Homo sapiens: one gene and its partners. The protein of the gene in region 2 purifies or fractionates together with the protein of the main gene of each other region. This does not show direct contact. Each region holds a gene or a part of one and is shown on either strand. Other genes may lie near its edges. The genes, in order: ADCK5, ALDH1L1, COQ8B, PRELID3B, AFG1L, LYRM1 and MTRES1.

Region 1 (4,562 bases), on a different chromosome or scaffold from region 2:
GACGCTAACATGGTCCTCAACACTGGACCTAGTAAGGAACTGACTTGCCAGCTGGTTTTTGGCCAGAGCTCAGAGCCCTGGAGAAAATTTTGAGGACTCCAAACAACATGAAAGCCAAAGGGAAAAGTCCATGACCTCTTATCCCTAGAGGGCGGGTTGACAGAAACCCCTGCTTGGCGAGGTCACATGCAGCAAGTGCTGATTCACAAGGAAAACCCAAGGCAGCCGGGCAGCGACTCGTAGGCGGGCCATCCACCTGCTGCCTACCCAGCCTGCACCTCCTGACCCTAGCCACCTCTGGTGCCAGTGCATGCATGGCTAGAGGCCCCGAGATCAGGCAGTCGTGCCCACGGACTGTGGAGAGACTCTGAACAGCAGCTCGTAAGTGGCTGCAAGGGAGCTACCTCCAGGTGGCTATCCCAGCCACTGCCCACCTCATCCATGACCAGCAACGCAAGCTGTTTCCACAGGCTCCACCAAACAGGTGAGGCCAGGAAAGTCATGGCTGGCTGACTGCTGTCTCCAACAACAGTTTTCTGCTCTTTCCTCAGGAACCAGCATTGCAGAAGGGGCTCCAGCTGCGTCTCTCACTCCCATTCTTATCCAGGACAGAGATCCCTCCAGTAGACCCCGGGCCACCATCACCCTACCCTGGTCCACCAGCAGCCTTGCTCATGCTCACGTCCCGCTCCACCTTGTTCACCGTGGTCCTATCCTGCCACTGTCCTCATCACACACCAGCGTGACTGTCAACTTACGGAATCTGTCCTCCCACTAGACTGTGAGCAGGGCCACCTCTCAACCATCTCTGAACAAGCAGGCACTCAATGAATGCCTGCCGAATGAGACCAACAGCTGTGAAGCACAGGACTCAATTGAACCCCACATGGCCCTGCCAAGCAACAGGCACTGATAACCCACAGTGCCTGCCAGGGCCCATGAGGCTGAGCAAGAGCCTGTCTCCTCCAAATGTGGAGCGCCCAGCACACCCAGACTATCCTCTCTGAAATTCCCATCACACAGGAGAGGTCCCCAAGGCCCAGAGAGGTTATGGGTTGGGGGGCGAGCCTGCAGCTGCATCTCCCAGAAGGACTTCCCAGAGCCCAATCCAGGGCAATTCTCACGTGACACACAGCCCCAACCGCACCCAGAACACGACCTCTAAACTGCCAGAAGATAAGCCGTCTTTTAGACGGTGGGTCCCCAGGGCCTTCCCCCAACACACCTGAGACGGCCCTGGTGACACTTATCCCTGCAGCTCCCCTGACTTCCAAAGCCTTCCAGTTTGGACAAGATGAAACGGGTGCCCCCTGTCAGAACCTCTCATGCTTTCTTATGGTGAGTGTGTGCAGTCTGTCTGCACAAACGGAAACACCTCCCGTTCCAGAGTGACTCTAGACCACAGCTGACTACCTTGAAAGCGGCAAGTATTCTGAGTGGTAACACTCACACAGGTATCATGAAGTTCACAACCAAAGGGCGTGCTTTGGCCGCAGAACCACATGCATGTCCGATCGTGTCTGGTTTTCCAGCGCCTGCAGATGAGGAGGATGCAGCTCCCACAGACAGGCCCGGCCGCAGCAGTGAGAAGCAACTGCCGAGTCTCAGAATGATGCCAGAAACTAAAAACCATGAACGGATGACCAGAGCCTGGGGAACCCAACAGCACTGTGCACCTCAACATGAGGGGAAACTGAGGCACATAATTGTCCCCAAAGTTAGGAAGAGACAGATTGGGAGTCTGGGCAGGGTAAGTGGGTCTGGCGACCACAGACACTGTCCTTCTCCCAGGGTGTGTGACCCTGTCAGCCCCAGCCAGTCCTCAAACGCCGCCTGGACCCAGCCCTGCTCACTGGCCATGAGCAGCTCCTAACCAGAGGCTAAACCGACCTGTCCACTCGCTGGGGCTGGGGAGGGACTGAGTGGCCTGCACGTGGGAAGACTTTGTCACCTGGAAGGAGCTGCACTGAAGGCCACCTCCCCGGCCCATGAAGCACCCTGGGGTCACACAGCTGGGCTGGGGCACGAGTGGGCCGTCCATCTGTGCTATTTATAGCCAGACGGGCAAGGCTAGCTTATCGCCAAACACAAGCTCTGCTGACATTCCAAGAAAAAAAGGAACGGCGCTGGGAGCCCCTTCATCTCTTCTGGAAGGGGGTGGGTAAGATGCGTGTCAAGGCCTCTGCCCCGCCCCCCCGCAGTCCTAACCGCAGGGACAGAGCAACGGGACCCGGCGGCGACGTGGGAGCGGGGAGACGCCGAGAGCCTGAGAGAGGGGGCCTCGGAGCCATGGGGGGCGCGCCCCTGAGACGACGCAGGGGCGCTCAGAGCAGAGCCCGGCCTGCAGCCCCCGCCCGCCCGCCGCCTCAGGGCAGGGCAGGCCCGGCGGGGAGGCGAGCGAAGGAGGTCCGGGGCAGCAGGCTGGGCAGGGAGGCGTCCGTGATTCCGGGAGGCCGCCTCGCGAGGGGAACGGCGCCTGAGGCTTCCCCGCGGGGCCCCTGCCCTCTGGAGATCGCGCTCTCCGGGGCGCCGGGCACCCGCCTCCGGGCTGGGCGGAGGGGCCCCTGCGGCTCCCGGTGCAGGCGGCGTCAGGGCTGCGGGCGCGGCTCCCGCCTGAAATCCCAGCTCTCGGGGAGGCTGAGGCGGGCGGATCGCTAGAGCCCAGGAATTCGAGACCAGCCTGAGCAACACGGCGAGACCCCGACTCTGCTAAACAGAGTCGGCCGGGAGCGGTCACGCCTGCGGTGTCAGCTACTTGCGGGGCCGAGGCGGGAGGATCGCCTGAGTCCGGGAGGCGGAAGCTGCGGTGAGCGGAGATCGCACCACTGCGCTCCAGGGCGACAGAGCGAGACCCTGCCTCAAAAAAAAAGAGGGAAAAAGCCCCGAGGGTCTCTAGGGCGGGGTCTGGGGACTTGCGGGTCTCGGGTCTCTGGGGCTGGTGTGCAGGATCTCGGGCGCCCCGGGCCGGGAGAGTCCTCACCGGTCGCCACATCTCCGACCACTGCTCCGCTCTTCTCCCGCCCGGCGCCGCTTAGCGTCTCGCAGCCCAGCAGGCCCTGCGGGAGGGCGCGTAGTGCGCACGCGCCGGAGCCAGAGCCCCGCCCCGTGGGCGGTGGGCGAGGCTGGAGGCCACGCCCCGAGTCGTGCCGGCCTCCGCGGCGGGGCAGCGTCCCCTGGCGGCCCCCAGAGGCTTACCTTTTGGCGCCCGGACCGCGCCTCCTGAGAGCGGAGGGTTCCAGTCCCGCCCTCGGCGCACTGCGCATTCCCCGGGCAGGCACCTGCCGGAAGGACCGCTGTGAGAAGCACGTGGATAATCCGGGGAGGGCTGAGGGCTTCCTGAGGTCCTCACGGCCCGGTATCCGCCTCTCTTTAACACTCCGTGCTATAGTGTGATTAGCGTGAATCTCTTTAACCTCAGGACTCCAACTCACCACCTGCCTGTGTGAGGGCCAAGATGACGCCCCTGACTGGGAACTGGAAGACAACCAGGAGAGTGGCCAAAGGGGTCCTGGAGCAGCTCCCGTGCCCATGGGGAGACCTTCCCAGGGCCAGGGCTTCAGATTCTGGGGTTCACTTTGCAGCCACCCTTGGTCCCTGTCACTTAGCTTCTTATGGGAACGTCAGTGACGTCACAGCCTCCTGCAGTGCCCTAGGCTGCTGCTACTCACTCTGTGACAGCCCTGGCTGGGTAGGGGCCCAGGCCCGGGCATGCCATGCAGCCAGCAAGGCTACTGCTGGACTGACGACCTCACCGCTACTAGACTGACCTCACCGCTACTAGACTGACCTCACTGCTACTAGACTGACCTCACCGCTGCTGGACTGACCTCACCGTCCCCGAACATGCCAGGGATCCTCGGGCGCCAACACGGGTCCTGGCACTTACTGCCTGCAAGCCCTCCTAGACCCCACTGTGAGCATGAAACAAAACACCATCCTTGTGGAATCCACGAGGGCTCCTGAGTCAGCTTGGCCTAAGGGTGCCACAGTAGCTGAAAGTGGGAGGTTTTCAGGCCTCAAGGCCTTTTCACAACTCTCAGAAGTGGCCCCTCCTCCTCCCACCAATGGCCCCTCCTCCTCCCACCAGTGGCCCCTCCTCCTCCCACCAGTGGCCCCTCCTCCGCCCACAAGTGGCCCCTCCTCCTCCCACCAGTGGCCCCTCCTCCTCCCACCAGTGGCCCCTCCTCCTCCCACCAGTGACCCCTCCTCCGCCCACAAGTGGCCCCTCCTCCTCCCACAAGTGGCCCCTCCTCCTCCCACATGGCTCCTCGTCCTCATCTTCTTACAGTCCTCTTGCTCCTCCCACTGGGACTGAACCCAAAGGCATCTCTTCAATGGGGTGGTCCCTGCCTAGGGAAAGCCGGTGCCTCCAGCCCTTTAGTGCCCCTTCTGTTATGGCGTGTCTCCTGTGAAGTCTCTGTCATCCCCAAGGTCAAGTTTGCTGGGCTCAATGATTCTGTGTGCCCTGCATCACTTTGCTAGCAGGACAGGGATTGGCCTCCAGTCTTCAGTCCCTCATCCCCAAAGCCCAGACTAGAACTTCACAGATGGACCTGGGGCCC
Region 2 (3,810 bases):
GAGGCCCCTGCATCCTGTCTGCTGAGGTTCCCAGCTCAAAGGCAGTGACCCAGACCCATGATTCTCAAAACGTGCTTTTCCTAGTACAAGAGATGCCAGTATCTCCCAGGAACTTGTCCCAGGTTAACAATTTCACCTAATTCTGACTTTTCCACCTCATTCTGAATCCGAAACTCTCAGGGTGCGCTTAGTACTCTCTGTGTTTTTTTCTTTTCTTTTACAAAATGCCAGGGGAGAGTGCAAATGCAGTTCCCCATTACCACAAATTATGAAGTCGAGTTTCCCACCTTTGGGGAAATTGCAGGGATCAGCACATCCAGAGTACAATGGAGAAGACTCGCCCTGGGAAAACCACCTTTGTGATCATGGTCTCTCCCCTGATGGGTAAGTAGAGCACTATGTGTTTTGACGGCAGCCCCAGCAATGGTGATGCCGCGCATGCCCACCTTTCAGAATATGGACCCCCAGTTCAGAACATGGAGACCTTCCCAATCATGGGTGCTGGGTCAGAGAAGCTCTGTGTGGGACCTGGGACCAGGCTGGGCTTCTCTATAGCCCTTCTCCAGGACCCTAATGCCACCCCATGATCAGGTGGGGAGGGGATCTCCAATTTATTCCAGAAAAGCCCAGCAGCCTGTTGGCACTGGAGCAGGATTCAAGGTAGACCACTTATGGCTGCCTCCCAGCTAGAGCACAGGCCCTGCAGACTTCTGCTCCCAGACTCCCACCTACTGCTTCCCTTCTACCTGGATGGGCGGGCCGCCCTCCATCAGCTTCCCTGCTCCATTGGCTCACTCACCCAGGGGGTCGGCCTTTCCATCCTTGTCTGGAACAGTGAACACACCCACCACTTCGTGGCCCTCCTTCCTCAGGTGGCAGTAAACTTCCTGGCCAAACAGGCTCTGTCCAATCACTGCAATCTTCATGGTAGCAGGAGGGTTGGAAGGACCTGGAGAAGGAATAAGGCAGCAATTAGACAGAGATCGCTGGTCTCAGAGAAGCCAGCCCTGGTTCAAGACAGGGCAGTTCATGGCACCTGGCCTGCTCTACCCCAGTCCCCTCTGTGGCTCTGTGGGTGGCAGGCCACTGAGGGGAGACTGCCACTGTAAGAGAGACCAGATGAAACATGTACACATGACCCAATGGATCCCTAATGTCAGAATATTCAATGCGACAGCAGGTGAGCTGGAAATGGATTGTAGAATTAGGGGATTTCTTTTTGAAACCTTCCAAACTGGCATGGAATGTTGGGTGTCAAGATGTTTGATATGTATTTGAGCATATTTCTGTAACTAACCAGTTCTATGGCCTTGGTCAAGTCACACTTGTTCATGAGAAAGATGCCACATCTCTCAAATGGCTTTCAGCCTACAAATTAGGCTTATTCCTCTGAGCCAGGAGTCACAAAAGGAGCAAGGGGAGTCCCCGCCGAAGGGGCTGTCCAGCTGAGCTGCAACAGAAAAGGGGCCTGCGTGGGGGCGCCTGAGGATGAAGGTGGTGGAAAGTGGAATGGGATTCCACTAAGGAAGATGTGTAGAATGAAGCCTAGCTAATCATGCACATTCTCCAAAGATTGGTCATTCATTCACCTCACGCATATCTGTAAAACCTGAACTATTATTCACTTAATACAGTTCTTTAAATTGTCCTTTTACGAAAATAAGATTTTATTTTGGAAAATTTTATTAAAGTAATGTGTACTTCATACATACAGAAAGTGCACAAATCATAGATGTGTAGCTCAATGAATTTCACAAACCAAACACACCACTGTCAACACCACCAGAAAGAGAAAAACTCCAGGAACTCTTTGAGCCTCTTCTAGTCACTACATTCACCAAGAATGATGGGACTTCTAACAGCATCGAATGGTTTCGCTTGATATATATATATATCCCCTTTATATGTATTCATTTTACATAAATGGAACCATGCAGTGTTTTGTAGATTTTCTCCCTCAACATTATCTTTGTGGTTGCATGTAGTTGTACTGAGTTTATTCTCATTGCTGCAGAGTATTTTGATATGTGGATGACCTCTAGTTCATTTATTCATTCTATTGTTAATGGAATTTGGGTAGTTACCAGTTTAAAGGTATTACAAATAGGATGCTACAAAGATACTTGCACATGGTCTTCATGGTACACATGTACACATCTCTGTCAGGTGTGTACTTAGGGTGGAATTCCTGGGTCATAGGTGTGAAAATTTCCAGCTTTAACAGACGCTGCCAGTTTTCCAGAGTGGTTGTATTAGTTTCCACTTCCATGTGCTCTCCACTTTGGCTTGTGTCTTCATTTTAGCGCTTTTCCTAACATGAAATACAGCTGTCTCATTGGGGTTTAATTTGCAATTCCCTGATGACCAATGAAGTCGAATGCCTTTTCCTGTTTCTTGGCTATTTGGATATCCTTTTGTGGGAATCATCTCTTCAAATCTTTTGTCTGTTTTTTTCCATTGGGTGGTTTTATTCTTATTGAAAAGGAGTTTTTTTGTATTGTTGCTCTGTTTTGTTTTTTAATCATCTAGACTTTGAGCTCTTTGTCAGATATGTGTATGGAAAATATCTTCCCTAATTCTGTGGCTTGCCTTTTTCATCCTCGTATAATGTCTTTTGATGAACAGATGTTCTTAAACTTAATATAGTACATTTTATCAAACATTTCCTTTATGTTTAGTGGTTCTTGTATTCTATTTAAAAAATCTTTGCCTACTCCAACTTCATGAAGATGTTCTCCTTGTCATTCAAGATCTTTATTGTTTTGCCTTTTACATTAGATGTGCAATCCCTCTGGAACTGATTTTTTCATACAATATAAGGTAGAAGTCCAGAATTTTTTTTCCATCTGCATATAAAATTAACCCAGCACTAGTTACTGAAAAGACGTTTCTTCATTGAAAAGGATCATACATGTACACATCTATCTTTGAAACTTTAGTCAGTTTGTCTATCTTTGCATTTAGTATAGCTTAAAAATGTTTTTTGTTGTAGTGGTGAAGATACATAACCTAAAGCTTTATTGTAGCTGATCTACCTAGTAGTTGTGAAGTGGTATTTCATTGTGGTTTTGATTTGTATTTTCCTATTGAATCATGATGTTAAACATCTTTTCATGTGCTTTTTGGCCATTTGTATACCTTCTTTGGAGCAATGTTTATTCGAGTTTTGACCCATTTTAAAAATTGGTTTGTCTTTTTTGTTGCTAGCATATAGAAATACAATTGATTTTGTACACTGACGTTGTATTAACTAGCACCTTAATTGCTTCACATATAAATTTTCATACTGTGTAGATTCTTTGTGGTTTTCTAAGTATAAAATCATGTTATGATGTTGGTTTTAATTCTTTCTTTCTAATCCTGAAGTCTTTCATTTCATTTACTTTCTTATAGCACTTGCCAATATATCCACTACAATATTGAATACAGATGGTGATAGTAGTTCCTGTCTCATTCCTGTGACCTTGGGAAGAAACCATTCAATATTTGACCATTGGTTAGCTTTGGGGAATTTTGGTAGATAGACTAGCATATTATGAAAGTTGTCTTATTAATATATTTCTGGCTGCCAATCATGACAAGGAGTTGACTTTTACCAAATGTTCTTCCTATAGGTCATGAGATTTTTATTTTATTGTGGTGGATCATAATGATTGATTTTTAAATGTTAAGCCACCTTTGCATTCTTGGAATGAATACCACTTGACCATGATGTATAACCTTTCTATATATCTCTGAATTTGAAGAGCTGGTATTTTATTTGTTTTTAAATCTATGCTTGTAAGAAATATTGACATGAACCAGTCCCAG
Region 3 (3,810 bases), on a different chromosome or scaffold from region 2:
CTCTGAGAGTCTGCTGCTGTATCTTGGCCCTGGGCTCCCGTCTCTCTAAGGCTCTGTTAAAATCCATAAGGCTTTTCCCACACCTGCTCATGCTCCCTGGGCTCTCCCCGCCTTGGTGTCCTTTCTGTCTCTGACACTCCCGCTCACAACGCCAGCACACCCTGCCCGTGCTCTCCTCTGGGCTCCCCCTCCTGCTTTCTCTCTCTGGGCATAGCCCCTTTGGGAGGTCAGCAGAGGAGTGGGTGGGCGCCTCACCCGCGGGCAGGGCCGCGCTCATCTTGAGTACCGCCAGCAGGTTCTGGACATCGCTCTGAATGCTCTGGGCTATGCCGGGGTACTGTAAAGGGAGAAGGGAGGGAGAGAAGGTGGGAGTCACTTCTCTGGGCTAGCAGGGTGCCCGCCCCTACCCTGCCCAGCCTCCCCTCTCACCTGGATCTTCACGGCCACCTCCGTCCCGTCCCTCAGCAGGCCCTGGTGCACCTGCCCAATTGAGGCAGCGGCAAAGGGCACCTCCTCCAAGGAGGCCACCTTGGCCTGCCAGTCCCTGCCGAGCTCCTCTTCAAGAACTCTCTGCGGGGAGTGGTCACAGCCATCATCATTGTGGCAGAGTTCATTCCCCAGGCTGAGTGCTTTACGTGTTGATAACCCCAGCACTCACCACATGCAGGGCCCTGGGCTAAGCTCTTGGCTGCCACCCCCTTTGCAGATGAGGAAACTGAGGCTCAGAGAGAGCTCCCTTGTGCAAGTGACTAGCCAGGCACTGGCAGACTGTGAGGCTCAGCCTAGCCTGTGTCCCCTGAACCTGGACTCCCTGGGCTGTTGTGGGGATTGCTATTATTTATAGTTAAGACTCATAACAATCCTTTTTTTTTTTTTTTTTTTGAGACAGGGTCTTGTTCTGTAGCCCAGGCTGGAGTGTAGTGGCACTCTCACGGCTCACTGCAGCATCAACCTCCCGAGCTCAAGCCATCCTCCTGCCTCCTGAATAGCTGGGACTACAGATATGTGCCACTGTGCCCAGCTAATTATTACTGTTATTATGTTTAGTAGAGACAAGGTCTCACTATGTTGCCCAGGGTGGTCTGGAAGTCCTGAGCTCAAATGATCCTCCCACCGCAGCCTCCCAAAGTGCTGGGATTACAGGCATGAGCCATTACACGTGGCCAACCATCCTTTATTATGCTCTTATATGTTATTATTAACTCACAGTTACTGTGATCAAGAAGAGCTAAAATTTACAATGGGCTTCCTGTGGGCCAGGTCCTATTCAGAGTGGCCCAGAGAGAGGCAGTACCTGCCTGGGGCCGCATGGCGAATAAGCAGAACAGGGATGGGAGAGCAGGTGGGTGGCGGAATCCTGGATTCCATGCCTTACCCAGTTATTAGAACAGCTCATGTCCTGGGCACTTACTTGGTGCCAGGCGCCGTGCCAACCTATTACAGACACGATCTCCTTTAATTAAAAAAACAGTAATAATCACAGCTAACACCTGCATGTTGCTCACAGTGAATCAGGGGCCGTTCTCAGTGCTCAGTGTAAACTGATTTATGTGACCCTATGATGTGGGTGTGGCTGTCACTATCGCCATTTCCCAGGGAAGGGAACTGAAGCACAGAGAGGTCAGGCTGCTGTTCCCTGTTTTAATCACCACAGCAATGCTAGGAGGTGTGTACTCTGGTGATTCCCATTTTACAGATGGGGAAAGTGAGGCTCAGAGGCAGGGAGTGGGGCAGTGAAGCCAGGAAGGTCAGGCAGGTCAGAGGAGATGGAGCCTGCCTCCCTCACCGCCCTCCCCCACTGGGCACTCACCAGCATCTGCCAGCGGGGCATGAAGTCGGCGCTCTGGCGGACCCGCTCAAAGATGTGCTGCAGCTGAGGGCTGATGAAGCTGTTGTCTTGGGAGACAGTGGAACCAGGGGGGAAGTAAGCGAAGAGGTGAGGAGGGACCCCGTGTGAGTATCTGAAGTTGGGGCCTGTTGGTGGGTAGGGCTGGGGTAGAAGGGAGGTCAGGGGTCAGGAGTCGAGGGTCATGCTGTACCCTGGATGCTGAGCATCTGGCCAACCTTGAGGGCGGCCCCTCGAACTGTACATAAGGTCTGCACAATCCGCTCGGCATTGGCCTCCGACAGGAAGGGGCTGGAGTCCAGCCCAGAACCACCCTCTGGGGAGAGAACAACCATTAGAATTATAACCACAAATATCATCACTGCGGCCAGGCCCGGCGGCCCACGCCTGTAATCCCAGCACTTTGGGAGACCCAGGCGGGATGAACACAGGAGTCTGAGACCAGTCTGGGCAACAGTGACATCCTTTCTCTATTAAAAAAAATATATATCATCTGCACACCAACAGGAATGGCTAAAACGAAATACGGAGGCCAGGCTTGTTGGCTCGCGCCTATAATCCCAACACTGGGAGGTCAATGCAGGAGGATGGCTTGAGTCAAGGAGTTCCAGACCAGCCTGGATAACAAAGCAAGACCCTGTCTCTAATTAGCTGGGTGTATGGTGGCATGTGCCTGTAGTCCCAGCTACTCAGGAGGCTGAGGCAGGAGGATTGCTTGAGCCCTGGAGGTTGAGGCTGCAATGAACTGTGATCGCACCATTGCACTCCAGCCTGGGCAACCAAGCAATACCCTGTCTCGGGAAAAAAAAAAAAAAAAGAAAAGAAAGAAAGAAAAATAAACATAAGTTAAAACAAATTGCAGGAGAGTCAAAGAGTAACTACTACAGTATTGAATAGATGAGCTATCACTACACACAACAGCCCAGGTGGGTCTCAAAAATGTAATGCTGAGTGAAAGCAGCCGGGTGCATGAAATCATCACCCAGTTACACTGATATAAAGAGCAAAACAAGGCCAAACAAATCCAGGGTCCAGGAGCCAAGACAGAGGTCACCCTTGGTGAGGGGAGTGACCAGGTGGGGACATGAGAAGGGCAACGATTCTCGAAATGTGGGCCAGGGACCCCTGAGGGTCCCTGAGACCATTCAGAGGGGTCTGAGAGATCAAACTATTTTTATCGTAACATTAAGATGTTATTTTCCCCTTTCTGCTCTCATGCGTCTAAGAACATTCACTGGAGTTCTCCAGAGGCTCCAGGACATGTGAGGACACCATCAGACTGACAGCTGATGGAATGTGTACGTGTGTACTCTTGTGTTTTAAAAATATCTCTGTATTTTTGTTGTGTTTTTGAGACAGTGTCTCACTCTATCACCCAGGCTGGAGTGCAGCGGCACAATCATGGCTCACTGCAACCTCCTGGGCCCAAGTGATCCTCCTGCCTTAACCTCCTGAGTAGCTGGGACTACAGGTATGCACCACCATGCTTGGCTAATATTTTTACTTTCTGTAAAAATGGGGCCTCGCTATGTCACTCAGACTGGTCTCAAATTCCTGACCTCAAGGGATCCTCCCGCCCCAGCTTCCCAAAGTGTTGGGATTACAGGCGTAAGCCACCGCACCTGGCCTAAAAATTTCTCAGTTTTAATTTCTAATATGGTAGACATTGATAACTATAATCCACATAAATAAGCTCTTTGGAGGCTCATTCTAACAGTTTTATTGAGAAATAATTCACATACTGTTATAATTCACCATTTAAGTTATATAATTCAATGATTATTAGTATATTCACAGAGTTGTGCAAGCATCACCAGAATCAATTTTAGGACAGTTACACCACGCAAAAAAGAAACCTGGCTGGGAGTGCTGGCTCATGCCTGTAATCCCAGCACTTTGGGACGTCGGGGCGGGATCACTTGAGTTCATGAGTTTGAGACCAGCCTGGGCAATATGGTAAAACC
Region 4 (4,436 bases), on a different chromosome or scaffold from region 2:
TAGACATTATTCCAACCTTTTAGAGAACTCAGATTGACAACTACATCTCGTTGACAAAAGGAAAATCTCAACTCCATTAATTTCCCAGAACCCTGGACAACCAGTGACATCATTTTTAATGTTTTCATTATAATATTCTTTTCTATACAATATTGTACCAATGAACCTCATTCTGTCTTTAGTCTCCAGCCTTATCCAGCAATCAATGCAGGTATATAAGCAGAGTTGCTTCATCAATCTGAAGTGTCCCGACAAATCGAAGCATACAGGCCAAGCACTGATTCTTACCAAGGCAACTCTCTAAAATGAAAATCAGATGAACCCTCCCCAGGTCTCCATCCAGTCATATGCCATGGTTAGCTGGCTTCCATGCCCTTACCTCTTCCCCCAACCCTCTCTAAAAAATTAATAATCGCATGACTTCAGGGTGGTTATGCATTATTTGTAATTTAGTCCATCTCTCCTTTCTGAACCAACTTGAAACCACTGATGTTGACTTAGCTTGGCTCAAGATTGCTTTATGAACCATAACCAGCTCAAACATTACAAACAATACTTATTATGATTAATCTTCCAGCAATTAATCTGAGCTGTATTAACATAATTACGTGGAAAAGATCTCACAATGGAAGACATTCAAAGACCACGCCAAAGTAGAATCAGGAGGACCTGGCTATGGCTCACTGACCGGTCCAACTTCTTCACCTTTGAAACGAGGTGAGGACATTATTAACTCCACTGGCGCAGCATCGAGGTCTTGATTTACTTATGAAAATGTAATCAATCCAAAGAACAGTGGCTGACACATACTGGGCATCTCTATAAGTTGAAGGAATCAATGAATGACTTCACCTGGATGCCAACTATAGGCCTCAGAAGAAAAGTGTTGGAAAATCAAAGACAGATAAGATGTAGAATGATGACTTAGACATTGTTAGAGAGTGACATCCTAAAGATCAGAAACAACGCTCAGATTTGTCAGGGGAGATGATGACTTCAATTTCAGACAGGCTGAGTTTTAAGGGCCTGTGGGACACGAGGGTAGCAATGCCTAACAGGCACCTGAAAATGAAAAGCGGAGCTCAAGAGAGGCTGGAGCTCAAGGTACAGATCTGGGTGCCATAAATGTATACCTATCATTTGGGACTTTGACCAAACAGCTCAGATTATGTGGGGAGAAAGCACGGATCAGGGCTGCTTCTCCCAGGACAAAAAAAAAGTCTGTGACGAAAAGAGAAACAAAAAAGAAATTAAGATCACAGGTAAAATCCAATATAGGAAGGCCAACACAGAATCTCACTGAACATTTACACTGAATGGGAAAAGACAGGGAAGCGCTGAAGACAAAGGCAGAAAGAGTGTAGAGGGAAGGAGGGGATGAGCCAGGAAGAAGAGTTAGGGAAGATATGGGAGAAGACAGTTCTAGGGAGACTGAGTGCCGAGAACCTCTGAAGCATGCAAACCCAGAAGAGGACTGAAGCATGCAAACCTGGAAGAGGACTGAAATTAAACATCCTCGGAGCTGAAATGGACTAGTGATGAATGCGACCAGGTTAATGAACATCTAAATGACCACAAATTTCGGGTCTTTTTCCTCCCAAAAAGACTAAACAGTAGGGGGAAAAGAAAGCTTCCTTCTGATTCCAGTATTCTATACTTTGCAGGATACAGCAGGCCCTAGGATGTGTCCCACTGAGTACAAATGCGGACAACGTTTTAAAAGTTGCCTTCAGAGGCCGGGCACAGTGGCCCACACCTGTAATCCCGGCACTTTGGGAGGCCAAGGCGGGCGAATCACCTGAGGTCAGGTGCGACCTGACCAGGGCGAATCACTTTGAGACCAACCTGACCAACATGGTGAAACTCCGTCTCTACTAAAAATACAAAAATTAGCCGGGCGCGGTGGTGGGCGCCTGTAATCCCAGCTACTTGGGAGGCCAAGGCAGGAGAATCGTTTGAACACGGGAGACGGAGGTTGCAGTGAGCCAAGAACACGCCACTACTCTCCAGCCTGGGCAACAGAGCGAGACTCTGCCTCAAAAAAGAAATTTAAAAAAAATTTGCCTTCAGAGACAGTTTTAAAAACATAAATGGCTTTGTAGCATATTTATTTACAAGGCTATACTAATTAAAACAGTGTGGCAACGACATTAAGATCAGCGGAACAGAGCAGGTAACTCGGGAAAAAAAAGGATTTCGCTGCTTAAATTTGTGGCTCTTTTGTAAATGGAATCAGGGACCTAGAAGAGAATATAATTCTCCACATCCAACTGGTTCAAGGCTTAGTTTCGTTAGTAAACAGTTCACATTATCCAAAAAGATGTTCCTGAACGTGGCCTCAAAGAGCTAACACGGGTAGGCCCTGACGATCGTCCTTTTCCATCTCTCAGATGAAAATGGGTAACCCAGGGTCACACGCTTGTTACAGCCAGAGCTAGACCTTGAATTCCAAATCCAAGGCTCTGCTGCGTAGATGAACGAGTTGTGAAAAGGCTTCACATCCTGGTGGTCAGAGTTCACCCGAAATTCACATTCGAAGGTAGAAACTCCACCCAAACGGCGGCCAGGGAAAGTACACTCTGGAGAAAACCAACACCTCCCTCTTGGGATCCTCGGGTCCACGTCCCAAAGTGGTTTCACAGGGCGGGATGGGGCAACCCTGAGTGCTGTCAAGGGCTTCGTGCTCCGCGACGCCCCCAGGACCTCAGGAGGCCGCCGGCCCGAGGCTACCTCATGGTGGGGGACAGCCCGGAAGTGACCCCGTAGCCCTGCCGGTCGCAAGGCCGCCTGGGTCTGGAGGTCGGAGCCGTCCCCTCGGCTAGGGCGCCTCGGGGTCGTGACCTTGGTCTGCCCTCCGTGTCGCCGGGGCCCGCAGGCTTCAGAGTTCGCTCCCCTCGCTAGGCCCGACGCCTAGAAGCCTCCTGCGGGCCGCCTCTGCCTCGCCTCTACTCCAGGGCCGGCGTGCCTGCCCTCCACGGAGCCGACCCGCGCCCCAAACTTACTCAAAGACGTGCTCCGAAGTCCAGATCTTCATGGTGCCGGCACCCTGAGAGATGTCCGGGTAGCGCCAGGGGACAACGAGGCACAGAGGCTACACCTGCCCCTGCCCCGCCCCCAGCACCCCAGCCGGCGGCGCAGTGCGCAGGCGCTGTCGGGCCCGACGCGAGGGACGTCCAGACGCGCGGCCCCACGCCCTATCCCGGCCCGGGTTTTGCCCCAGCCTTGCGCGCGGCGCAAGGAAACCCCGCCTCTTAGCGCCGGGCGCATCGCGCCGGCGCAGTGCCGCCGACGGCAGCTGGAGGGGCCGGCGCGGGCGCTGTGCTGCGCAGGCGCGGCGGGCTTGTAGCGAGCCTTGACCTCTGGGCAGAGTTGGGTCAGGTCCAGGAGGTGCCTGCGCGCCCGCTTGGCCCTCCTTGTCCTTCTGGCCCAGCACATCCTCGCCTGGCATTTCGAGGCGTGTGGACGCATGCGGTCAGCCTGCTGACATAGATGTTCGTTGTGGTGGTCACTTGTGCAAAATTTCCTGGTGCCCTATAGAGAGTTCCAGCCACCTCCTGGGTCAGCCCGGGCTGTTTTCCCAAATCCACCAGCCACCCAGCCGATCAGCTGGGCCAGTCCCACCTGCCCGCCAGGAGCTTGCAGCCCTCGGAGGGGATAAATAAGGCGTGACGCGGAGAAGCTAACATCAGACCTGCCCATGAATAATACCCCTACGAGGGATGCGGTCCGGAAGCACGGTGCCAGGGGTCGGGTAGAAAAGCTTCCTGGCCGGGCACACCTTGCCCTAGGTGCATAGGATGGATCTGAGCTGAGATGTCTCTCCCAGAGAGACTTCCCTCGTCACCGTTTCTCACCTTGTTGCTCTGCTCCGTCACAATATCCTGTTGCATTTTTTATAGCACTTACCCCTCTGACATCATCTTGTTAATTTATTTGTGAAAATTCACAATCGAACTGAGTTCTTGAAGGCAAGAATCTTGCCGGTCTTGCTCAAAAATCATCCTCAGTGTCTCCCATATAGTCAAGGCTCAATGACTACTTATTGAAAAATGAAAAAAATCAATAGCTATTTGTGGGATGAATGAATTAATGGAGTCATCTAGTTTATTTGTTGTAACTTCCGCTAGACTGTAAGCCCCTGAGGGCGAGGCTCTTGCCAGACTTGTTCAGTGATTTCCCCCTTCCTAAATGACAATTATTTGTTGCATCAATGGATGAAAGAATGACTAAGAATTGCTGGGGCAGGAGGAGGTGGCATGTGGTTTCATTCAGAGATGAGCCTTGTCCAGGGAACAGACTGCCTGGCTTAGCTTTCAGAATATGGCTTCCCACCCTGCTCTCCTGCACTCTCCACAGCCGTCTACCTCCTAACAGAACAATTTGCCATTTTCAATGAAGGTTATGGAGGAAAATCTTTACATCTAGTTACTTAGAAG
Region 5 (3,810 bases), on a different chromosome or scaffold from region 2:
ATTAGTGGAGCATGGTGATGCATGCCTGTAGCCCTAGCCTACTCAGGGGGCTGCGGGAGGAGAATCACTTGGGCCCAGGACTTCAAGGCTACTAGTGAGCTATGATTGTGCTACTGCACCCCACCTGGGTGACAGAATGAGACAGTATCTCCAAAAAAAAATAGGCCAGGCACAGTGGCTCATGTCTGTAATCCCAGCACTTTGGGAGGCCGAAGCAGGGGGATCATTTGAGATCAGGAGTTCAAGACAAGCCCGGCCAGTATGGCAAAACCCCATCTCTACTAAAAATACAAAAATTAGCCAGGCATGGTGGCAGGTGCCTGTAATCCCAGCTATTTGGGAGGCAGGAGAATCGTTTGAACCTGGGAGGCGGAGGCTACAGTGAGCCAAGATATCACACTACTGCACTTCAGCCCGGGAGACAGAGTAACACTCTGTCTCAAATAAATAAATAGGTCAGGTGCAGTGGCTTATGCCTGTAATCCCAGCACTTTGGGAGGCCGAGGTGGGCGGATCACCTGAGGTCAGGAGTTCGAGACCAGCCTGACAAACATGGTGAAACCCCATCTCTACTAAAAGCACAAAAATTAGCTAGGTGTGGTGGTGTGTGCCTGTAATCCCAGCTACTCAGGAGGCTGAAGCAGGAGGACTGCTTGAACCTGGGAGGTGGAGGTTGCAGTGAGCCAAGATCACACCACTGCCCTCTAGCCTGGGCAATAGAGCAAAAATCCATCTATAAATAAATAAATAAATACACACTAGTCACATCCATGCAGGAATTAGGTTTAAAAAAAAAAAAAAGGCAAAACAGCCCTAAAACCAAAGTGAAACTGAAGAAAGTGATCAAGGTAGAAAGTTAGCTGGGTAGAGTGCCATGGTGTGCCCTTCAGATATCTCGTAACAAATACGAGGGGTTCCCAAGAGAAGCATCCAAAGAGATGAGGATTGAATATAAATTGAGATGGACATCGCTCTCCCCAGCTGGATGCTTGCCTAGGTAAGGAAATGCACAAGCAGCTGCCAGAGCAGAGTGTGGAAGAGTTCATGGGAGAACTTGATATAAGTCCCCAGGAGAAAGGGGTATGCATGACAAAGACAGAAACCAGTGCCTGCTTCTTGCTTGCAGAAGTCTGAGGACAGGAGGCTGACTGAGGCTGCCCATGCAGCAAGGGGTGGCGAAAGGAGATGTTATGTTTCCTGTGGCCTGCACGGACACCATAAAAGATGACCCAATAAGAAATGTCCCAGGCCAGGCACAGTGGCTCACACCTGTAATCCCAGCACTTTGGGTGGCCGAGACAGGTGGATCACTTGAGGTCAGGAGTTCAAGACCAGCCTGGCCAACATGGTGAAACCCCGTCTCTACTAAAAATACAAAAATTAGCTGAGTGTGGTGGTCCACGCTTGTTACCCAGTTACTTGGGAGGCTGAGGCAGGACGATCGCTTGAATCCAGGAGGCAAAGGTTGCCAGGAGCCAAGATATCGTGCCACTGCACTCCAGCCCAAGTGACAGAGCGAGACTCTGTCTCAAAAAAAAAAAAAAAAAGTCCTGAAAGGACCCCACCCAAGAAGGCTAAGGGCAAGAGCAAGGCGGTGTCGGCAGAATGCAGGGTTGTGAGTTGCTTCCCCAGAGTCATAAGAGGTTAGTCAAAGACTGGAGAAGTGTGGAGGTCCCCATGGGAGTCTTGAAGAACCCACCAATAAGACCCTCAACAAAGAGCTAGCACGTCAGCATCTACCATACAAAGGCCCCAGTAACTAACTGGTCACTTAAGGCTGCTGTTTCACTCTAATCTTTCATTCTTCTCATTCTGACCCTAGAGATGTCAGGCAAACAGAGAAAGAAGGAGGAAGAAAAGGGAAAGAACACATCACTCCTCCTTTTCCACTGCTGATCCCTGGATGAGGCCTGAGCTAGAGGAAAGGGAAAGCTTTAATTTCCATAGAAGTTTTTATTTAGACTGGACTGCATTTTTTAAATACCTAAATATGAAGCTATTCAAACCCCTGAAGGCAAAAGAAAGCTATGGAACATCAAAAGGCCAGGAATGGGGATCCAACAGAATTTGTGTAAAGGAACTGGTGAAAATTTTTCAAGATGTTTCATGATTGTGTCCTACTGCATTGCATCCATTTTAGAAAATGCTTACACTTTTAACTGTTTAATCTTTCATATCACACAAGCCTCACCTTTGAAAAAAGGCCTTCTGCCTCTATATTGTATCCTTTAAGGTCCTCGTGTAATTTCTGCAAACACTGTATGACTCTTCTTTGATGTTCATCATCCTTTAGCTCATGAGCTTTGATCAGAAAATCATAGTGGTCCAGAGGTCCATGGCAAACGGCCAAAGCTTTCAAATAAGTCTCTGAAGTGGCAGTTGGGGTCATGCTCTCGGATGTCTGAACCGTATAGGCTATAAACAAAAACATAAAATTTTAGACTTTCTTAAATACATTTTCACAGTGCTCTACACATTTCTTAAGGGTCAAATTCAAACTTTTAACTAGTTACAAGTATATCTATTGGAGCAGTTTTTGTAAATGTCATTTTGATAAAAATAATATAAAATACATTTTCAGCCAGGCATGGTGGCTCACGCCTGTAATTCCAGCACTTTGGGAGACCAAGGCAGGCAGATCACTTGAGGTCAGGAGTTCAAGATCATCCTGGCCAAATGGTGAAACCACATCTCTACTAAAAACACAAAAATTAGCTGGGCATGGTGGTGCATGCTTGTAATCCCAGCTACCTGGGGGGCTGAGGCACGAATTGCTTGAACCTGGGAGGCAGGGGATGAAGTGAGCAGAGATTGTGCCACTGTACTCCAGCCTGGGTGACAGAGTGACACTCGGTCTCAAAAAAAAAATAATTAAACAATGAATATATTTCTAATTGTTTTATTTTAACAAAAGGAAACAAACCCCAAACCCATAAACTATAATTGTAACCTCTCTTCCAGAAGGCCTATTCCTACTACAGCTTCTGCTTTGCTTCCAGTCCACTGAAGGAGACACTGGGGTTCCTCATCTCCTTCCCAAAGCAAGAGAGTTGCCTTTCTTTGAGTAAACCCTAATTCTGGTTCTTAAGCACCAAGACAAAGACGTGAAGACTAGTCCCAAGGGTTTTCCACTGTTCCTTAATTCTCTACTCAAAGACAACATAACATTCAGATATTACCACATCGATTTCAGCCCTCTGCTTCTGAGATCTTTTTCTGTTTTCCATAACCTTTACGGAGTTGGACATGGAATTGAGACACAGCAAGAGTGTCTGCTTCAAAGCAGGGTGGTGTTCTGATCCTATTTTTGGCCTCTCCTGGGAGAGAAATGATTGTGGCGAGGTCCAACCATAATTCCATTCCTTATGTGGGGCAGGTTTAATAAGCAGCTAACTCCTTCTCTACTGTTTAGAAGCAACAATAAACAGCAGCAACCTGGCACATTTTTCAGAACAAGATTTCCCAAAGGTACTCTGCCAGCATTTTATTCATTTCATTGAACATCATGTTTCCTTTGTCACAATAACATAAAAATTACTTTAGCAAAAAGAATTAACAATCACAATGTTAGGTCCATGTTTTCCCCAAAAGAGGGGGAAAAGTCCTTAAATATATCATGAATGTTGGAGATAGGGACGGCTGTCTTCCATTATTTGTTCCACCTTTCTAAATAGAAGTTTTAGCTGGATGCATGGCTGCCCAGACACATATTACATCTCCTGGCCTCTCTTGCAGTCAGGTATGGCCATGTGAGCAGGTTCTAACAATGGGATATGAGCAGAAACGTGTGTAGTTCTGACATACCCCATT
Region 6 (4,575 bases), on a different chromosome or scaffold from region 2:
AGTTGGGGCTTTCTAGCACCTGACCCTTGATCCAACTCTCTGATAAATAACCACATTCTGTGCAGGGGTCCAGGCCTTCAGGACAGCTTCCTCCACCATCAAATAACTACTGAATGCGCAACTTTCCCATCTGCAGAGGCACCAGAGCTCCTCAGTAGGCTAAGTCCCTTGAGTTTCACATGCGGAGAATGACTAGCCTACATAGTACCCTCGAGTTCCTCCAGTCCAATGCTGACCAAGATAACTTTCTGTGAAGGAAAGGTTCTATCTGCTCTGTCCAATAGGACACACACCTGTCACAGGTAGCTACTGGCACTTGAAACATACTGTGTTGGAGGAACTGAATTTTTATTTAAATAGTCACATGTGGTCAGTGGCTACACAGGGATAGCACAGCCCTAGACCAAGAATTGCAAATCAAATGCCCACAGGGGTCAGCCAGGTAGCAGGAGAGGAGAGGCCTTTTTGGCAAACCCTGAGCATGAGCCACATAGACGGGAGACAGCTCTTCAGCTCTGGCTGACAGTTGCTGTGTAGGAACCTCTAGGAACTTCAGGCTGGTGTTGTCAGATTGTCGGATTTTTCAAATGAAGCCCAAAGTCTGGATTTTGATGTCCAATTTTTAAATGTTGGCAAGTAAATTTAAAAAAGAATTTAAATCACTGTGTGGGCTGAACAATATGTTTGCAGGCAATATCTGTCTTGTCAGTATGCAACTTCAAATCTAGGCCAACCCTTCAGCTCAGAGAGAAGAGCTTTATCCATGGCCACTCTGCTGGTCAGTGGCAGATCCAGGATTGAAACCCAGGCCTTCTTATTCATCTTCTGATACCCTTTACACTATATTGTGGAACTGATCGTAATTGTGGTGGGCTTGGCAGCAGTGGCAGGGACAAAAGCCCCTTTTTGTGAGAAGCTGTTGGATTGTATGGCTGATACCTTATGAACACAGTGTTCCTGCCCAGCTACAACCACCATATGGACAAGGCTCTGTACCAGGAGCCAGGAAGACACAAATAAGAAACAGTACCTGGGGGAGACAGCCATATAAACAGACAATTTATCCAAAAAGTCAGGTTTTCTATAACGGACACAAATTACCTGAGCACAAGTCCAAAAGCACTGACAGCTGGGAGAGGGAGGGAGGGAAGAGATTTGAGCCAGGACTTAGCTTCTACTTGCTGCGGGTAGAAGCTGGCAAGCGGGTGGATGAGATTCACTGATTACGGGGATGGGTCCCATTATTCCAGGATATTAAGGGGCCTCTTCCTTTGATCTCTGAGGTCTTGTCTGTGTCGTCTCCTTTGCTGGCTTCTCCTTCTCTGGGTACTCTCTAAATGGTAAGAACCCAAGGGATTTAGGGGTCTTCCTCTTTTATTTACACGCTCTTCTTAGGTGATCTGGGAGCTCCTCCCTGCCTTCCTTATTTATTATCTCCAACTATGATTTTTCCCCGACTTGTATATCTAACTTCTTGACAACTTCATTTGACTTGTTAATAGACTTATCAAACTTAATATGTTCAAAAGAGAACTTTCGATATTCCTTTCTAAACTGTTTTCCCGTAGGGAGTTAACCTTGGTTCCTCCCTCTCCTACACACTTCACATCCAATTCCCCAGCAAGTCCTGCAAGCACTACCTCCCAAATATATGCTGAATGGAATTCTCTCCATTTCCACTGTGACTGAGGGCCTTTTCTTTTTTCTTAAGACGGAGTCTCACTCCGTTGCCCAGGCTGGAGTGAAGTGGCGCGATCTTGGCTCACTGCAACCTCCACCTCCCGGGTTCAAGCGATTCTCCTGAGTAGCAGAGATTACAGGCGCGTGCCACTACGCCCAGCTGATTTTTGTATTTTTAGTAGAGATGGGGTTTCACCATGTTGGCCAGGATGATCTCGATCTCCTGACCTCGTGATCCGCCCGCCTAGGCCTCCCAAAGTACTGGGTTTATAGGCGTGAGCCACCGCGCCCGGCCGGCCCTTTCAACACTATCTTCACCTCTCCTTTGTCTTACAGTGCAACAGTCTCCTAACAGGTCTAACTACTTCCACCCTTCTCTATCCAGCAGGCAGAGCGGATTTTTAAAAATGTAAATCAGGTCAGGTCACTTCCCTTCTTAAAACCCTTAAGGTACACATTAGCCAAACCCCTGCCTTGGGCTAAAAGGCGCTGCTACAGTCATGCCACTTCCCCAACTACATCACAGGGCACTCCGGCCCTGGCTCTGTTTGCTTCAGCCACATGGCCTTCTGGCTGTTTCCAACCTAAAAGTCCTTCTCATTGGCTCTTCTCTCCACCCAGAAAACCCATTGTCTCGGATCCCCGCAAAACCGTGGCCTCCTTTGAACGACCTTACCCGATTTCGAGGGGCCCTCCCCCCATCTTCTGTCACCTCATCCGGTCTTTGGGGGGCATTTCTCACTTGCTGATACCTTCTTTATTGATTTACTTAACTCTCTCCTGCACACGAATGGAAGGTAACGGAGCAACACCCTACTCTCAGGTTTGAAGAGCAAGAGAATTACGAAGCTGGCTCTCACGGTCCTAGGGAGTCTCCGTTCCTGTACGGGACCTGGTGTGGGTCAACGTTCCCCAGCCAGACACCTCTCGCCCCCGGACCGGCCCCTACCATCTCCCATTTACATTCGGGGGTCCAAAAGATTCACAGCCTCCGAGGGGGCCCCACGCCGGCACCTGAGCGTCCCCACACCAGGCCTCCCCTCTTGGACGCGCGAGCCACTTCCGTGAGGCAGGTCCCCGAGGCCGGTGGCGATGACACCGAGCCGCCCCCGCGAAGCTGGGGTCACACAGGCCCGTCTCCCGGCAACGCCGCAGCCCAACCTCCAAACCATCCCTGCCCGTGGGGAGCCAACCCCTTCCCCGCCAGTCTCCCGCGCCTGGAGTCGGCGCCTCCATCCCCTACACTCACTCTGCGTCAGTCCTGCCTTCCCCCACCCACAGAAGCGCGCAGCCCGCGGCGGGCTGGGAGGAGGCGGCGCCAGGAGCCCAGCAGAGCCGTGGCCGACCGAGCACAGGCTGGTCCAGTAGGCCAGGCCGGACCAAACCACCGGGCCCACCTCTGTGGGAGCACCAGTTCCAGGTCTGGGGGAGTCTCGACTGACTGACTCTACCCATCTCCCGCCGCATCCAACAATAAGCTGAGCTCCTCCTCCCCCTATTTTTCCTTTACGCTTTCATTATCCTCCCCGCTCCATTCCCGTAAAACAAGAAAAAAAAATGGTCCAGCCCAGCTCCCTCCGGGTTGCTAGGTCTTTGCCCTTACTTGGCGACGGCTTCGTACGTCTTTATGTGCGTCGTGACGCAATCTTCCACTCGTTCCCTCCTTGCCCCTCTCCCATTCTCCCTCCTGGAGCTGGCGGCCGGCGGGGTTACCGGAAGTGATGATGCAGGAGGCGATGGAGGGGGCGGGGCTTCGGGGCGGCCGCCGCCGGTGGGCCGCAGATGAAGAGGAGGCGGTGGCAGTGGTGGAAGAAGAGGCGGCGGCGGCGGGGGTAGGGAGCCTGGAAACGCGAGCGGGGATGGTAGGTGGTTTGGACCCGCCGGGCCGCCGTCGTTTCCAGAAAGGGTTTGACTGGAGGAACCTCTGGAGCAGCTGTGAGTTTTGGGGAGGGGGGGAGTTGAGGAAAAGGCGGGGGGGCATTGAGAGATGAAGGGGCGGGGGTTGGGTACCTTCGAGAAAGGGGGGTGGAAAGGGAGGAGTGGAAGTCAGCGCGTTGTCTGGAGTGGTACCTCTGAAAGAAGAGGCTGTGAGGGGAGCCTGTGGCGTGTCAGCCGCAGGGCTCAGAAAACTTACCTACTGTCCCTGCCTCCCCACCGCCAGCACCCCTCAACCCAGGGCCTGGGGATATGGGGTTGGAGCTGCCCTGGAGGGGGTGCAGACTCTGGTCCTCTGTCCTGGGTGAGCGCTGTGAGGTAGGAGCCCTAGGGGGAGGTGGTGGGTGAATCTCCCAGCTCCCTCCGCCCTCATTTCCCTCCCCACCCCCATCGTTCTCTTTAATCATTAACAGCCCTGGAATTAAGGGGCTCAGACCTGAAGGCCTTTTTGTGCACCTTTGCTATAAACGATAACCATCTGTGTCCGAGGTAATGAGGCTGGAGGCTTTGCCTGTATCCTCTATAGGAAGTGGGACGGGGTGACAAATGTATTGTTTGTTCCTCCACCACACCCCCCGCACTTCTCACCCCTCATCCTCCCCCATGCACACCCCTGGTTTCCACTTTAATTCTCTGTGGCTGAGTGGCAATAGTGGATTTTTTTTTCTTCCCCTTTCCTCCTTTATGGCACTTAGTGCCTTGGTTACCTCTTTTGAATTTGGTGTTCAGCCTCTATCCCAGATCTTAACTGTAAGCTTTGTAATACTTCATACAGGCTGTCACGTTGGGAGTACCTCTTACGCTCCGATTATAATGAGCATTTTCTTTTATGAATACTGGAATTCCAGAGCCTTTGCAAGGAATCCTGAATGGCATCATAGCCCAGGAATCAAGGTCTCTTGCTCGAAATACTTTATGTGTGAGGAATTTACATGTTGTCAGCTCTTCCCAAAATGATTT
Region 7 (3,754 bases), on a different chromosome or scaffold from region 2:
TTAGCCAGGCGTGGTGGCAGGCGCTTGTCCCAGCTACTCAGGAGGCTGAGACGGGAGGATTATCTGAGCCTAGGAGGTCAAGGCTGCAGTGAGCCATAATCATGCCAATGCACTCCAGTTTGGGTGACAGAGTGAGACCCTGTCTCAAAAAAAAAAATTCTGGCTGGGCGCAGTGACTCACACCTGTAATCCCAGCACTTTGGGAGGCCGAGTCAGGTGGATCACGAGGTCAGGAGATCGAGACCATCCTGGCTAGCACAGTGAAACCCCATCTCTACTAAAAATACAAAAAAAAATTAGCCGGGTGTGGTGGTGGGCGCCTGTAGTCCCAGCTACTTGGGAGGCTGAGGCAGGAGAATGGCATGAACCTGGGAGGCGGAGCTTGCAGTGAGCCGAGATCGTGCCACTGCACTCCAGCCTGGGCGACAGAGCGAGACTTCGTCTCAAAAAAAAAAAAAAAATTCTGTTAGAAAATATTTTTTTGTAAAAGTAAGTTACGTATATATATACATCTGGAATTAAAATACTGCTGTTACTAGCATTTATCTTTAATTGAAGCATTATGGGTTATGTTAATTTCATAGTTTTTATTTTCTGAATTTTTTTACCATGAGTATGTATCACTTTCATAATGGAAAAAACAATACTGATAATAAAAGTTAACAAAACACAATAAAAAGTTATGACAGAGACCCTTAAAAAGTGTGGAAGACACAAGACACGAGGTATTGGAAGACATAATCTAACTCAGTGTTCAGGGAACAAAGGTTCCAGAGAAGTTAGACATACTTTGGAGATTGTTTTCATTTCATCTTTCATATTTCAAAATACCCCTGGGGTTGGAGGATCCGAACTACATCCGGTTGCCCTAGGACATGGGAAATTGAGGCTGTCGGCTGTCAGCCGTGCATTTGGGTGAGCACTGAGGCTTCCTGCAGTCCTTGCTAACTGGGATCATGCAGGTTCTTGTAGCTCTGTGGGCAGAAGGAGGGAAAACTCCCCCAAGCTGTCTCAGCCCCCAAGTCCCAGGGCCCTGGTGATGCCCCTGACTTGAACCGGCAGGCTGGGACTGTGGCTGGCTGTCAGCAGCTATTGCTCAGTGAGCTACATGCAGTCATAAGCCCTTCTCATCTCTGAATAGCTTTTTCCTGCTGTAGCCTGCCCTCCTTCTAAGCTGCAGTATTCCAAAAACAAGATGTATTCTTGGAGTAAAGAATGATTACTCCCTGAACACCCTGTCTCTGTGCTGGGGCCTCATTTACAAACCCCACTAGACTATTTTTCCTCACACCCCTCCCACCCGCCCCCGTTTTGTGATGTTGTTAACTACAGCCTAATTGCTGCTGCTTCATTCTGCCTTGGGTGTTCTGTTGTCTCAGCTGCCTTCCATGTTTCTTGTGAGGGTCAGCAAAGGAAGGGGGCATTATTAACGCTCAGCTGTCTTGTTACTAGGAGGCCTGGTAGCCATAGAAACTGCAGCTAACTAGAGATTTGAAATGTAGATATTTGGAACAGCTCCTAATCCCAGCCAGTTTTGCTTTGTGTCTGCTGAGGGACAGGGGCCGTGGAGGGGAATAAAGAATGCCTCGCCTTCCCTGGTCTGCTCTGTGGAGCCTGTGCCTGGCTGCTGACCCCGAAGGGTCAGGTGCTTGTCTGATGCTGCAGCTCTAACCCTGGCTGTCTGCGATTCAGCAAAGCTTTTCTTTGAGCTGAAAACCAGGTGAAGCCCAGGGTGTGGTAGGTGTTGGGTAACTGTTGATTAAACAGTGGGTGTGTGGTGTCCAAGTATGGGGATTGAATCCTTCCTAAACTCATCTCTTCCTGGGATCAGTTGGGTAAAGGAGGAGCACCCCTTCTCTGTGCTACAAGGAAGCTCCAAAGGGATTCATTCTTGTGTGTGTGTGTGTGTGTGTGTGTGTGTGTGTGTGTGTGTGTGTGTATTTTTAGTAGAGACGGGGTTTCACTGTGTTAGCCAGGATGGTCTCGATCTCCTGACCTTGTGATCCACCTGCCTCGGCCTCCCAAAGTGCTGGGATTACAGGCGTGAGCCACCACACCCCGCCAAAGGGATTCATTCTTTAGCCACACACTAGCCTTCTCTATCCAGAGGCAGACATCATGCACAGTATCTCTATGAAAGGATATACACAGAGTATCCTTTTCTTTGTATATTTTTTTTTTCTTTTTCTTTATTTTATTTTGGAGACAGTGTCTTGCTCGGTTACCCAGGCTGGAGTGCGGTGGTGCAGCCACAGCTCATTGCAACCTTGACCTTCTGGGCTCAAGTGATCTTCCCACCTCAGCCTCCCGAGTAGCTGGTATGACAGGCACACCACCACGTCTGGTTAATTTTTTATTTTTTATAGAGACAGGGTCTCACTGTGTGGTCCAGGCTGGTCTTAAACTCCTGACCTCAAGTGATCTACCCACCTTGGCCTCCCAAAATTCTGAGATTGCAGGCATGAGACACCACACCTGGCCTATACACCTTTTCTTTGTCTACCCTTTTGTATCTTCTAAATTTTGTATCATATGCATATATTACTTATTAAAAATGAATTGTAGGCCGGGCACAGTGGCTCACACCTGTAATCCCAGCACTTTGGGAGGTCAAGGCAGGTGGAACACTTGAGGCCAGGAGTTTGAGACCAGCCTGGCCAACATGGTGAAACCCCATCTCTACTAAAAATACAGAAAGTTACCCGGGCATGGTGGCAGGCTCCTGTAATTCCAGCTATTCAGGAGGCTGAGGCAGGAGAATCGTTTGAATCCAGGAGGTGGAGCTTGCAGTGAGCCAAGATCGCGCCATTGCACTCCAGCCTGGGCAGCAGAGCGAGACTCCATCTCAAAAAAAGAAAACAAACAAAAAAAGAATTTTAGCTGAGCAAGTTGGTGTGTGTCTGTAGTCGCAGCCACTTGGGAGGCTGAGGAGGGAGTGTCGTTGAGCCCAGGAGTTTGAGGCTACAGTACACTATGATTATGCCTATGAATAGCCACTGCATTCCAGCCTGAGCAACATGTGAGACCTCATCTCTTTAAAAATAGTAATTTGAATGAAATAAGGTTATACCAAAAAGGTAAAGCAGAGTTCCCAAGCCTTGTATTTCTTTTTTTTGAGACAGCCTTGCTCTTGTTGCCCAGGCTGGAGTGCAATGGCACGATCTCGGCTCACTGCAACCTCTGCCTCCCAGGTTCAAGCGATTCTCTTGCTTCAGCCTCCAGAGTACCTGGGATTACAGGCACCTACCATCACGTTCTGATAATTTTTGTATTTTTAGTAGAGACGGGGTTTCGCCATGTTGGCCAGGCTGGTCTTGAACTCCTGACCTCGTGATCCACCCTCAGCCTCCCAAAGTGCTGGGATTACAGGTGTGAGCCACCACGCCTGGCCTGTATTTCTAGACGGATTTTTTAAAATGTCCACATAGGCTGAAGTAGTCATTTTAAAAAATTGAACCCAGGGTTGGGCGCGGTGGCTCACACTTGTAATCCCAGCACTTTGGGAGGCCAAGGCAGGTGGATCATGAGGTCAAGAGATCAAGACCATTCTGGCCAACATGATGAAACCCTGTCTCTACTAAAAATACAAAAATTAGCTGGGTGTGGTGGCACATCCCTGTAGTCCCAGCTACTTGGGAGGCTGAGGCAGGAGAATCACTTGAAACTGGGAGGTGGAGGTTGCAGTGAGCCGAGATCACACCACTGCACTCCAGCCTGGTGACACGGTGAGACTCCATGTCAAAAAAAAAAAAAA

What was found.
Region 1: the proteins of ALDH1L1 (region 2) and ADCK5 purify together in Homo sapiens (co-immunoprecipitation; one large-scale study listed by IntAct). This does not show direct contact.
Region 3: the proteins of ALDH1L1 (region 2) and COQ8B purify together in Homo sapiens (co-immunoprecipitation; one large-scale study listed by IntAct). This does not show direct contact.
Region 4: the proteins of ALDH1L1 (region 2) and PRELID3B purify together in Homo sapiens (co-immunoprecipitation; one large-scale study listed by IntAct). This does not show direct contact.
Region 5: the proteins of ALDH1L1 (region 2) and AFG1L purify together in Homo sapiens (co-immunoprecipitation; one large-scale study listed by IntAct). This does not show direct contact.
Region 6: the proteins of ALDH1L1 (region 2) and LYRM1 purify together in Homo sapiens (co-immunoprecipitation; one large-scale study listed by IntAct). This does not show direct contact.
Region 7: the proteins of ALDH1L1 (region 2) and MTRES1 purify together in Homo sapiens (co-immunoprecipitation; one large-scale study listed by IntAct). This does not show direct contact.

Annotation. Positions count from the first base shown.
Region 1 is NC_000008.11:144,372,526-144,377,087, reverse strand, and holds the start of ADCK5 (uncharacterized aarF domain-containing protein kinase 5), read right to left. Parts: upstream 3,042-4,562; 5' UTR 2,993-3,041; coding exon 2,981-2,992; intron 2,263-2,980; exon of another isoform or gene 1,685-2,262; coding exon of another isoform or gene 1,451-1,684; intron 1-1,450. UniProt on the Homo sapiens protein: The function of this protein is not yet clear. It is not known if it has protein kinase activity and what type of substrate it would phosphorylate (Ser, Thr or Tyr).
Region 2 is NC_000003.12:126,160,054-126,163,863, forward strand, and holds part of ALDH1L1 (cytosolic 10-formyltetrahydrofolate dehydrogenase), read right to left. Parts: intron 950-3,810; coding exon of another isoform or gene 927-949; coding exon 800-926; intron 385-799; exon of another isoform or gene 232-384; intron 123-231; exon of another isoform or gene 30-122; intron 1-29. UniProt on the Homo sapiens protein: Cytosolic 10-formyltetrahydrofolate dehydrogenase that catalyzes the NADP(+)-dependent conversion of 10-formyltetrahydrofolate to tetrahydrofolate and carbon dioxide.
Region 3 is NC_000019.10:40,703,286-40,707,095, forward strand, and holds part of COQ8B (atypical kinase COQ8B, mitochondrial), read right to left. Parts: intron 2,163-3,810; coding exon 2,040-2,162; intron 1,897-2,039; coding exon 1,811-1,896; intron 571-1,810; coding exon 430-570; intron 338-429; coding exon 256-337; intron 1-255.
Region 4 is NC_000020.11:59,039,697-59,044,132, forward strand, and holds the start of PRELID3B (PRELI domain containing protein 3B), read right to left. Parts: upstream 3,091-4,436; 5' UTR 3,035-3,090; coding exon 3,003-3,034; intron 1-3,002.
Region 5 is NC_000006.12:108,322,430-108,326,239, reverse strand, and holds part of AFG1L (AFG1-like ATPase), read right to left. Parts: intron 2,416-3,810; coding exon 2,192-2,415; intron 1-2,191. UniProt on the Homo sapiens protein: Putative mitochondrial ATPase. Plays a role in mitochondrial morphology and mitochondrial protein metabolism.
Region 6 is NC_000016.10:20,899,244-20,903,818, reverse strand, and holds the start of LYRM1 (LYR motif-containing protein 1), read right to left. Parts: upstream 3,049-4,575; 5' UTR 2,930-3,048; intron 2,778-2,929; exon of another isoform or gene 2,357-2,777; intron 1,334-2,356; exon of another isoform or gene 1,102-1,333; intron 1-1,101. UniProt on the Homo sapiens protein: May promote cell proliferation and inhibition of apoptosis of preadipocytes.
Region 7 is NC_000006.12:107,045,039-107,048,792, forward strand, and holds part of MTRES1 (mitochondrial transcription rescue factor 1), read left to right. Parts: intron 1-3,754. UniProt on the Homo sapiens protein: Mitochondrial RNA-binding protein involved in mitochondrial transcription regulation. Functions as a protective factor to maintain proper mitochondrial RNA level during stress.